Regions from separate parts of the Homo sapiens genome. Here region 1 is linked to region 2. The links come from fine-mapping of genetic effects on gene expression. A gene starts in region 2. The other region holds a variant in brackets. All regions are shown on one strand. Distances are between the middles of the regions. Region 1 overlaps SART3 (spliceosome associated factor 3, U4/U6 recycling protein). Region 2 holds the start of FICD (FIC domain protein adenylyltransferase).

Region 1 (5,380 bases), 21 kb before region 2:
ACTAACTGTAAGTAAAATGAGCATATTGTCTGTGTTGAGGACTTATAACAACTTGATATTTTTCTTTTAACTTTTTATTATGGCAAAAATGTAAACATATAAAAGTAGACAGATCAGTAAAATGAAACTTCTGTACCCCTCACCCAGCTTCAACAATTAGTAACATTTATAGCTTTAGTTTACTTTGATCTGTAGTCTCACCTACTTGTCCCTTCTGTGTTACTTTGAAGCAAATCCAGAAATGATATTTCGTTGGTAAATATTTCAGTATGTGTATATAAAATATTTCAGTGTGTCTGTATAAAAGGATCCAAATGAGGTCTATCCAGTAGGGTTGGCTGACGTCTTTTAAGGCTGTTTTAACCTGTAAGTTGCTCCTCTCCTTCTCCTCCACTCCCCTTAGTGATTTTTTTGTTGTTGTTGAGGAAACCAGGTCACAAGAGATGTTTATAAGGACATTTCTTTCATCACTTGGTCGTGCTGGCAATGTCTTGTTGATGGTGAATGCTTAATAAAGTGTAATTTCCTAACTCTGGAATTCTTTATCATAGGATCGACAACTGAAAGTAAAGGATTTGGTTTTATCTGTACATAACCGCGCTATTAGAAACTGCCCCTGGACAGTTGCCTTATGGAGTCGGTACCTCTTGGCCATGGAGAGACATGGAGTTGATCATCAAGTAATTTCTGGTGCGGATGTTTTTGTGGGAGAACTTCTAAGCTATTTGTCCCAAGTGAAAAACAGAGAGCGGTGACAAAGTCATTACATCAGTGTTCCCTGGGGTTTTCTTTGGGTTATGGAGTGTAGTGACAAAAAGGGCTCTGAGTGAGAGATGAACTGGTTATATTTGTGGCTTCTTAGAGCTTTTTAACATGCTAATATTCATTGTATTTTCTAAGAAGTTGTAGTGTTTTCTCCAAACTTCCTTGATCTGGAACTTTTCTTGCAGGGCGTCTTGTGGAAGAAGTTTTTTCTAGAACACAGTCTGTAGAGTGCTGTAGCAACTTCTGTCTTCAACATTCCTGTCTAGCTCATTTCATTCTGTTGCATCTATTAGTCTTTAAAGTCATGTAGTGTTTTATAGTCAGTAGAATGTAGTGACTTTCTATTAGTTTCCATTTGAATTGGTAACAAATCCTGACTTTTCTCCAACTCCAGTAACCTTCGAGAAAGCTTTGAATGCCGGCTTCATCCAGGCCACTGATTATGTGGAGATTTGGCAGGCATACCTTGATTACCTGAGGAGAAGGGTTGATTTCAAACAAGGTATTTAAGCACATGTTTTTCACTTTAGAGCTGAACATGTTCTTAATACAACTTTTGGCGAGATGTCCCAGTTCCCCAGATACATTGTGATTGGGCAAATGATGTAGACTAGGTATTGGTGACTTTTTCCCCCAGAAATCTTAGCAATTTCTGTCTTTAACAAGTCATGATGTGGATTGTAAAGCAAGAGAGTAATCGTTTATACTGGCTCCTGCCAGCCTTTTTAGTCTTAGCTCTCATTTCTCCTTTCAGGTCTTTTTATTTATCCTAAATACTTCTTGAAATAAGTCTGCTGTGTTTTAGAAAAATCTTTGTACCTCTGTGGGATCCTTTGCCCCTTCATGTCCCCCCGAAAACAACCAGAAAACCCCTAACTTGTACTTGCACACTCATGTCAGCTGTCACCTCATACAGGTAGCCTTTAGCCATTCTCTTGTTTGCCTGTGTCACCCCAGCTGGGGGAGACTCCCCCCCACAGCACCCTGTGTTTGCCTTTTTCACCACGCTGTCCATGCTCTATTCTGTTCAAATTTCTTTCTCCCCAACTATGTGATGAGGGCAGGAATTGGCAATTTTATTTCTGTGTCCCTTGCATGATGCCAGGTACATAGTGGGTCTCCAGGCAGTTTCAGCATAGGATAAAAAATAAAACAAAGCCAGGCTATGTGGTTTCCTAAAGCCTTTTTTTGCACTTTCCGTTAGACTCCAGTAAAGAGCTGGAGGAGTTGAGGGCCGCCTTTACTCGTGCCTTGGAGTATCTGAAGCAGGAGGTGGAAGAGCGTAAGTATGCCCCAGCCTGTGGTTTTGCCCAGTTGTATTTCCTTGTCTGTACTATTTCCTGGTTGATGTACCTTTTCAGCCAGCGACTATCTGTCTCCAAGTTCCTTTCTAATTTTACTAATTCTGTTTTTGAAGGTTTCAATGAGAGTGGTGATCCAAGCTGCGTGATTATGCAGAACTGGGCTAGGATTGAGGTAAATGTTTTTGACACATCTAGCACTTTCATCCATCATTGTTTAATAGCATCCTATTAAACTTTAATTAAAATTGAGTCAGAATCCCAGATAATGGCCTAAGCTCTATAAGGATTTATGTTATTACCTAGGTAATGGTCTAGGCTCCACAAGGATTCATGTTATTTACCTAGCTTGACATATATTTGTAAATATGTTGGTGAAAATATTAGCTCCCAGCTAGAAGTTGTGCAGTAAATGTTTAGATGCTAGGTATTCACTCGTTTACTTCTGTCTCTGCCTCTTTGCTTCATTTGTGAGAGCACAGTGAGCGTGTACTGTTTGTCAGCACTGTACTAGGTGCTGTGGGAATAAGACAGATAAAATTCCTTTGCTAGTAAGGCTTCTATCTAATGTAGAAGACAGATGATTTGACAAGTAATTAGAGGATATGATGACTTGAATGTCATTACTGGGTCAGGGACACCAAGGTCAGTAAGACACGGAACCTCCCTTGATCAGCAGGTAGGATTGTAACAATTCTAATCATGTTTTCTCCT[C/T]GGAGGGAGCGTCAGATAGAAGAAACTAACATTTGTCAGGTAGTTTTTATATGGGATGCTTATCTTTTAACCATTTTAAAGATGAGAAAACTGAGAATTACAGGTTAAGTAATTTGCCCAAGTCACAGTTTGTAAGTATTAGTAGCAGAGTGTGCATTTAATACTAGATCAGTCTTTTTTTTTTTTTTAACATTGTCTCTCAAACACTTGTAGTTAAGCTTGATAAAAATAAAAAACGTGACTATCTAGTACTGTCGAGTAAGTACCGTGCGCTCCCTCTCTCGGTTCTCAGGAAACATAGGTAGATTAGCTTGTGGCTGCAGAAAGGCTCAAGTGTTTGGGCTGGGTCGTTTACCACTGGAGGGAGGCCTGGGGAATGCCCAGGGACATCTGTAACACTAATAGTTGTGGGGTGCTTTTTATGTGTGTCTGTTGGAAGTGTGTTGTATGATGGGTGTCGACGTCATAAGGTTCAGGTCTCCTAACAGCCTGCTGATGCACTTTAGGCTCGACTGTGCAATAACATGCAGAAAGCTCGGGAACTCTGGGATAGCATCATGACCAGAGGAAATGCCAAGTACGCCAACATGTGGCTAGAGTATTACAACCTGGAAAGGTAACTGATCTCGGGGTGGGGAGGGAGGCAGTGCTTGTCAGCTGTGCACCTGTCTTCACTCCTGGCTGACTCCTACCAGCTTGGACTAGCTCCTTAGAACTGGGCTGTTTTCTTTCATTCTGTCTCTTTCAGTAGTGGGTACATTTTTAATGGGCAGGGCTAGAGAACCAGACATGATATTTTGTGCCTGGAACTCTTATAGCCATGCATTTCTTTTAATTTGTTTTTGTCTTGATTTTTGGGCATGATATTTTATTTGACCTTTTGGAGCTATTTGTTTTTTATATTTGCTTTTATAGAAAAGTAGAAAATACTAAAAAGCTAAGAGAAAAAAAACTCAAATTACTGACCCAGTCATAACCATGACCCATTCTTTGAGACTTTTCTATGTTTAAATTTTTTTGTAATGAAAATGCAATTATAGCATGCATGTGTTACAAGCCTTTAAAACTATTTGAACGAAATAAGATAGGCCTAACAATATTTATAACATGGGGAAAACATAAAGAATGTGACCAACTTTTCAGTCTGTCTTGAACGTTGTTCATTGCATAACATTGCTACATTGCTGGGTTTTCTTTTTTGAAGATTTTTTCCCTATTTAAAAAACACTGTGTGCCCAAATTAGAATATTTACAAAAATATGTGATAGAAAGCGACAGTTTCTTTTCTTTTTTCGGGGGAGGTGGGGAGTCTCACTCTGTTGCCCAGGCTGAAGTGCAGTGGTGCAGTCTCAGCTGCAACCTTGCCTCCTGGGTTCGAGCAATTCTTCTGCCTCAGCCTCTTGAGTAGCTGGGATTACAGGCGTGCACCACCACACCTGGCTAATTTTTGGATTTTTTTTTTTTTTTAGAAGAGGCACAGTTTCACCATGTAGGTCATGCTGACCTCAAGTGATCCTCCTACCTCGGCCTCCCAAAGTGTAGGAATTACAGGCATGAGCCACCATATCCGGCTAAACGTGACAGTTTCTTACAATCCCACCCCAGAGATAACCACTGTTAAAGCTTGTTGAATATCCCCCTAGATCTGCAGTTCACAATTTTTTTGGTCTCAGGATCCATTTTCCACTCTTAAAATTGGAGGATCCCAAAAAACTTTTATGTATGTGAGTTATATCTATTGATATTTATAATTTATAAATTGAGAAATCTAAAAAACATTTTAATTTATTTAAATATAACAAATTATCTAACATTAATATCTTTTTTGAGCAGTGACTGTTTTCCAGACCCCAAAATAATATAGTGAGAAAAGTGGCAGTGTTTTCTATTTTTGCAAATATATTTATTTGCACATTATTCTGACCTAGGAGAAGACAGCTAAATTCTCATGTCTGTTACTGATTCTGTCTGTTGTGATCTGTTGTTTTCATTGAAGAGGTTAGGAAAGAAAGGTATTTTAGAAGCATTTTCAGATAATTGTGGGTATTCTTCTTTCATACATATTATAGCAAAACTTCAGTGTTGCATGTGGAATCTGAAACCATATTGACAGAGTCTGTTACAGTAATACCCATTTGTCTATTTTATCTTTTACTTGATGCCACAATTCTACGACATTATTTGGAAAAATCCCAATTCACTAAATCATGCAGCTCTTCCAATGTTGACATATTTCATCCTATAGTATTAAAAAATCGTATTTGTTCATATCTGTATTGATCTTAGTTGAAAAGTATTTTAAGTAGGAAGCTGTCAGACTTGTGGTGGCAGATACAAGTTTTCCAAAATTCTAATTTTCACTTGAAAGCTTGAATTCTATCACATGCAACAAATAATGTCAGTGGTTTTCCCCAGAGTGGCAGCCTCACTTTGTTAATTTTCAAAAATGTCTGCCAAATACCCAGGTCTGAGTAACTGACCGTGGTTTGTCACTCAAGTTTCCTTTCAAGTAAAAATGGTGTCCTTGAAAAAAATGACTTGATTAGCTTGCAACTCAAACAGTAATATGCTTTTTTTTTTTTTTTTGGCAATAACCATTG
Region 2 (5,330 bases):
TTGATTGTGCGCCCCAGGGGACATTTGGTGACGTCTGGAGACCTGGTTAGTTGTCATAACTGAGGAGGTGGAGGGAGTGCTACAGGCATCTCATGGGGAGAGGCCAGGGATGCCACCACCATCTAACAATGCACTTTCAGTCCCCACCACAGAGAACTGGTGGAGGTGGGGAGCCTGCTCTAGCCCTAGCCCTCCTGTCCTGGCCCCTCTTGGCCACCTGAGGATCAGCCCCACACATTCAACTTCCTTTAGTTCCTCGAATGCCCCCAGGCTCTCTTACGACAGTTATGTCAGTTATGACAACTAACCTCTGGTCTCTGCCTGGAGTCCTTTTCCTTGGATGCCCTTCACCCTGGATGACTCCTACTTAACAACTGGGTCCCAGCTCAGGTGTCACTTCCTCCAGGGAGCCTTCCTGGTATGCTCCTACAGCCCTTTATGCTTCCCCATCACCACACTTGTGACACTGTCTCAGTCACATCACCTTGTCTATACTAGGAGCTCAGGGCTGACTTGTTCACAATACCCCGATGCCCCACATACAGGACATGACACATTCTATGTCTGTCTATCCAGTTAACAAGCATTGAGGAAGACGGCCAGTCTGTCTTACCTGGAGAGGCCTTGGTCTTGGCCACCAGCAGCGTCGCGCCCCTGGAGGTGATGCTGAGCTCCGTGGACGGGCTGGTGCACTTGGTGGCGGCATGCTGCGCCCTGTCCGGTTTGCTCCTGAGCAGGTAGAGGCCTTTGAGCACAGCCAAGCACTGCTCCTCCACAGCCCCCAGCGGCAGCAGCAGGGCCAGCAGGGACCCCAGCACCATGCTCAGCAGCGTCACCCAGAGGAAGCGGCTCCAGACCGAGACCCATTTCGGTTCAGTCACCGCCATCACTGAAGCCATTGGTATGAGCATCATCTGGACTCAGGAGAGGGCCCTTTGCGCATGTCCACAGGCGGCTGAGAGAGAGCAGGATCTGCAAGGAGCCAAGAGTCGCAGGAGAAACAGACACGTTCAGGACATAGTGTGACTTCAGCTGGGAAGATGGGTTTGGAGACTTCTGCTCTTTTAGCTCACTAGAGAGATGGGGTGGGGGCAAGTCAAGGACTGGATCTCACTAGAGGAGGGGCCAGCCTAGAAGGACTGGTGCCACCTCCTGGGCAGTATGAATGTGAAAACACTGCTGTGGTCCAACAATTAATGAGCACTTGCCATAATCCAGGCCGTGTGCTAAGCACCAAATGCCTCACATGGGTCACCTCCTGCAATCTTCAACGACTTGAGCTGATGTTTTCACCCTTCTCCAGGTGAGGGAACTGAGGTTCAGAGAGGTGAAGTCCCTTGCCGAAAGTCTCGCCGGGAGCAAGTGACAGCCTTAGGACTTGAACTCAGGAACCCCACGGCTCTAAAGTGTCCCCCCTTCCCATATATCCCTGTGGCTTCTGACCACAAACACTGGATTTGTGGACATATGTCAAACATTTGGGACATAAATGACTGACAGACACCCAGGCAGATCAGCCACAGCAGTTCTGACGCCCAATCTTTGATAAGCACAATTGTTGGGTGGCCTCATTTATTGCCCTCACCCTGATATTCAGCCACAGCTCCCACAGTGCCCTTCCCCTCTCTGGCCTTCCATTTCTGGCCTGTCCAGAAGGGACCCCATCAAGAAGATGAGCAGTTCGAGCATCTCGAAAGGAACTCAGGCTGTGGGCCACAGTGCTTGGCCTCAGTGACAACATGGCTTGTATGTGCTTGGGGCTGGCAGTGGGAGTGGAGGTGGGGCCAGGCATGCAAACACTATGCTAACAATAAGCACTTATTAAGCAACTATGGTGTCCTAGGTGCTGAGCAGTGTACTGGCCACGCATTGCCTCGTTTCACCCTCATGCCACCCTATGAAGGAAGAGCTACCGCTAGCTCCATTTTACAGACAAGGGAAACCAAGACACAGAGAGCATAAGTTAAATTCCAGAAGGCCCACAGGAGGTAAACAGAGGCATCCGGAAGGAAACCCCAGGGCCTCTGAACCCGGTCCCCAGGTCTCGATTTCTACCTTATTACTAAGCAGGGCCTGTGCACCTGCTCTGGGCTGGTCCTGACCCGGGAATGACTGATGGATCACGGGGTTCTGAGTCTCATGGGGATCCTGGCCCATTGCCACAGAACATGTGAAATGGCTTGGGGTGCGCTTTAATAGGGGTGCGCCTGGAGTGCTGCGCGGGTCCAGGGGTCTGGGCGGGCTTCCCGAGGGGACAGGCTCCTGGGCGGGGCGGTACAGGAAAGGGGGCAGTTCGCCGGTGCCAGGGGTGTGTGCAGGGAAGGAGTGCGTTCTGGGAGGCGCGAATCTCTCCCCCACACTTCCCTAGAAAGGGAGAACTGAGGCCCGGAGAGGGGAGGGGACCGGTCTGAGTCCCCTCCAAGACTGCAGAGCCTCCCTTCCCGAACCCCGCCCAGGGCTCGCGGCCCCGTCGCACCCTTCCCGGCTTCATCCTCTCGAGCCCCTAGGGCTTTTCCCCTTCTCACCGCGCGCAGCTGTCAGAACCCCAACCGCCTTCCCCGCGCTCCCAGCTCCGGGCCGCCGGCTCCCGGGTCCTCCTTCTCCGCCGGCCTCTGGCCCCGCCCCCGGCGACTTGCCATTGAACCGCCCGCAGCCCTCGTCGCGGCGGATTGGCTTTCCCCACTTGTCCTTCCCTCGCATTTCCGGGTTCCCGCGTCCGCGTCGGCTTCCCCGGGAAAGACGCGCCGTGGGCCACTCCCATTGGTTGTTGCTTGCGTTTGTCTCGTTCACGTAGCAGCCAATAAGCAGCGGGAGGGGCGGGGCCTAGGCCACAGGCAGGAGGAGCAGGTGCTGGAAACCCGATGGGCGTGCGGATTTGGGGCACACTAGGTGGCGGGCCCGGAAACTGGAAGTTCCACGGCGGTCTTTTCCTCGGGTCTCTTCGTCCCGGAGCCGCTGTCGTGTGCCTCATTTTTCCCGGTTGTGAAATGAAGATGCTGATGCTTTTCACCCCTTCACCCGGTTAGCCTGCTTGACTGCGCAGCCCCTGTTCTTAGCCTCCACCCCATGCTGCTGAGTTTGCCGCCTTCTTCTTCTTTACTCTTTTCCTCTCTGTGTCTTTTCCTCCCTGACTTAAACAACTTTTTTTTTTCTTATAAAATACAGGGTCTCGTTGTGTCGCCCAGGCTGGAGTGCGGTGGAGCAATTGCAGCTCACTGCAGCCTCCACCTCCTGGGCTCAAGCAATCCTCCCATCTCAGCCTCCCGAGTAGCTGGGACTACAGGTGCATGCCACCATGCCCGGCGAATTTTCTTTTCTTTTCTTTTCTTTCTTTCTTTCTTTTTTTTTCTCTCTCTCTGTCTTGCTTTCTTTCTTTTTTTTTGAGACGGAATCGCACTCTGTTGCCCAGGCTGGAGGGAAGTGGCACGATCTTGGCCCACTGCAACCTCCGCCTCCCAGGTTGAAGCGATTCTCCTGCCTCAGCCTCCCGAGTAGCTGGGATTACAGGCGCGCATCACCACGCCCGCCTAATTTGTGTATTTTTAGTAGAGATGGGGTTTCACCACGTTGGCCAGGCTGGTCTCGAACTCCTGACCTCAGAAGATTCGCCTGCCTCGGCCTCCCAAAGTGCTGGGATTACAGGCGTGAGCCATCGCGCCCGACCTATTTCTGATTTTTTATTTTCTTTAGAGACCGGGTCTCACTATGTCGCCCGGGCTGGTCTCGAACTCTTGACCTTAAGCTCTCCCTCCATCTCGGCTTCCCAAAGCGCTAAGATTACAGGCGCAAGCCACCCCCTCGGTTCTCCCTGACTTTTTAATTTGTATCCTCTCCAGAAGGACCTGGCTAGTTCTTTTGGCTTCCCAGAGAGAAATTTTTTCCTTGAAGCAGAGAATGGAAACCTCCATCTTAATCCACAAATACTGAAATTAAACATCTAGGGAGGTGCCCCAGAAACGCTAAGCATTTAGAAGTTAGCAGTTCAGATTCTGGGGAGTCAAAGAGACCTGAGCTCAAATTCAGACTTTGCCATTTACTCTCCGTGTCACCTTGGGCACGTTACTCCTAGCCTCACTTTCCCCACTTGTAAAATGGGGACAAACAGCCTACCTTGCTTTTGGCATCCAGTTCAGGATTTGCAGAAGGCTTGATGCTTCAAGATCTGACCTCCTCTGTGACGTGTATTGCTCTTGGAGGCAGGGCTAGGTGGTGGTTGTGGGGTGTCACTGTTGGGAGTCACACAGACCTGGGTTCAAATCCCAGTTCTGCCCCTTGCAAACTGAATCACATTCAGCAAGTGACTTGATCTTGTTGATCATCTGTCTAGGCTTTTCTGTAAACTGTGCACAGTGTGATGATATTACCACTTCACAAGGTTTTATGTGAGGGTGAAATGAGATTCTATACATCTGGCACAGAGCAAACTATCTATCTATCTATCTATCTATCTATCTATCTATCTATCTATCACCTATCTATCTTTTTTGAAATAGGATCTCACTCTGTTGCCCAGGCTGGAGTGCAGTGGCATGATCTTGGCTCACTGCAACCTCCATGTCCTGGGTTTAAGTGATCCTCCCATCTCAGCTTCCCTAGTAGCTGGGACTACAGGCACACACAGGCTAATTGTTTTTTTGTTTGTTTGTTTGTTTTTGAGACAGAGTCTTGCTCTGTCACCCAGGCTGGAGTGCAGTGGTGTGATCTTGGCTCACTGCAATCTCTACCTTCTGGGTTCAAGCGATTCTCCTGCGTCAGCCTCCTGAGTAGCTGGGATTACAGGCATGTGCCACTGCACCCGGCTAATTTTTTTGTATTTTTAATAGACACGGGGTTTCATTCTGTTGGCCAGGCTGGTCTTCAACTCCTGACCTCAAGTGGTCCACCTGCCTTGGCCTCCCAAAGTGCTGGGATTACAGGCTTGAGCCACCGCGCCTGGCCAGAAGATCCATAGTTTTTAAGGAACAAAATCAGGGTGGTGATTATTTTGGTGGCTTCTCGTTTTTAATCTTTTCAACCAAGGTCATAAACATTTTTCTCTTGGAGTCCTCTGAATTGCACTTCCTGATGGCCCAAGTAGTAATGTCATTGTAAAAACCTTCCCCAGAGGAGGGCCTGGTAGGCAGCCAGCTTATGGGTGACAGTATGTTAGAAAACAGTGAAGCTCTGGGGTCAGACAGATGTGCGTTGAAATGCAAGGCCCACCGCTTGCTGGCTGGGTGACCTTGAACAAGTCACTTATCCTCACTGAGCTGGGTATTAAGGGACTAGTGGACCCCTGTCCACACCCAGGTATAAAGCAATGTAGTCCTCTGCTTCTAAAGGCACCCTCC

What was found. PIP is the estimated chance that this variant, and not a neighbour inherited with it, causes the effect. A credible set is the group of variants that fine-mapping cannot tell apart.
Region 1: its variant is the best candidate, but not a certain one, in a credible set for the expression of FICD in whole blood (INTERVAL, PIP 0.56).

Annotation. Positions count from the first base shown.
Region 1 is chr12:108,533,375-108,538,754 of GRCh38, reverse strand. It overlaps SART3 (spliceosome associated factor 3, U4/U6 recycling protein), which reads left to right. Exons shown (of 19, transcript NM_014706.4): 8 at 552-690; 9 at 1,160-1,267; 10 at 1,970-2,047; 11 at 2,183-2,241; 12 at 3,287-3,396. Among named protein-coding and RNA genes, the nearest start is that of FICD, 21 kb to the right of the region's middle. The variant C/T (reference allele first, on the strand shown) is at 2,781.
Region 2 is chr12:108,512,557-108,517,886 of GRCh38, reverse strand. It overlaps FICD (FIC domain protein adenylyltransferase), which reads right to left and starts at 2,610. Exons shown (of 3, transcript NM_007076.3): 1 at 2,526-2,610; 2 at 614-972. The coding sequence starts at 914. RefSeq lists enhancers at 175-675, 888-987, 676-1,176, 3,079-3,138 and a silencer at 4,635-4,820.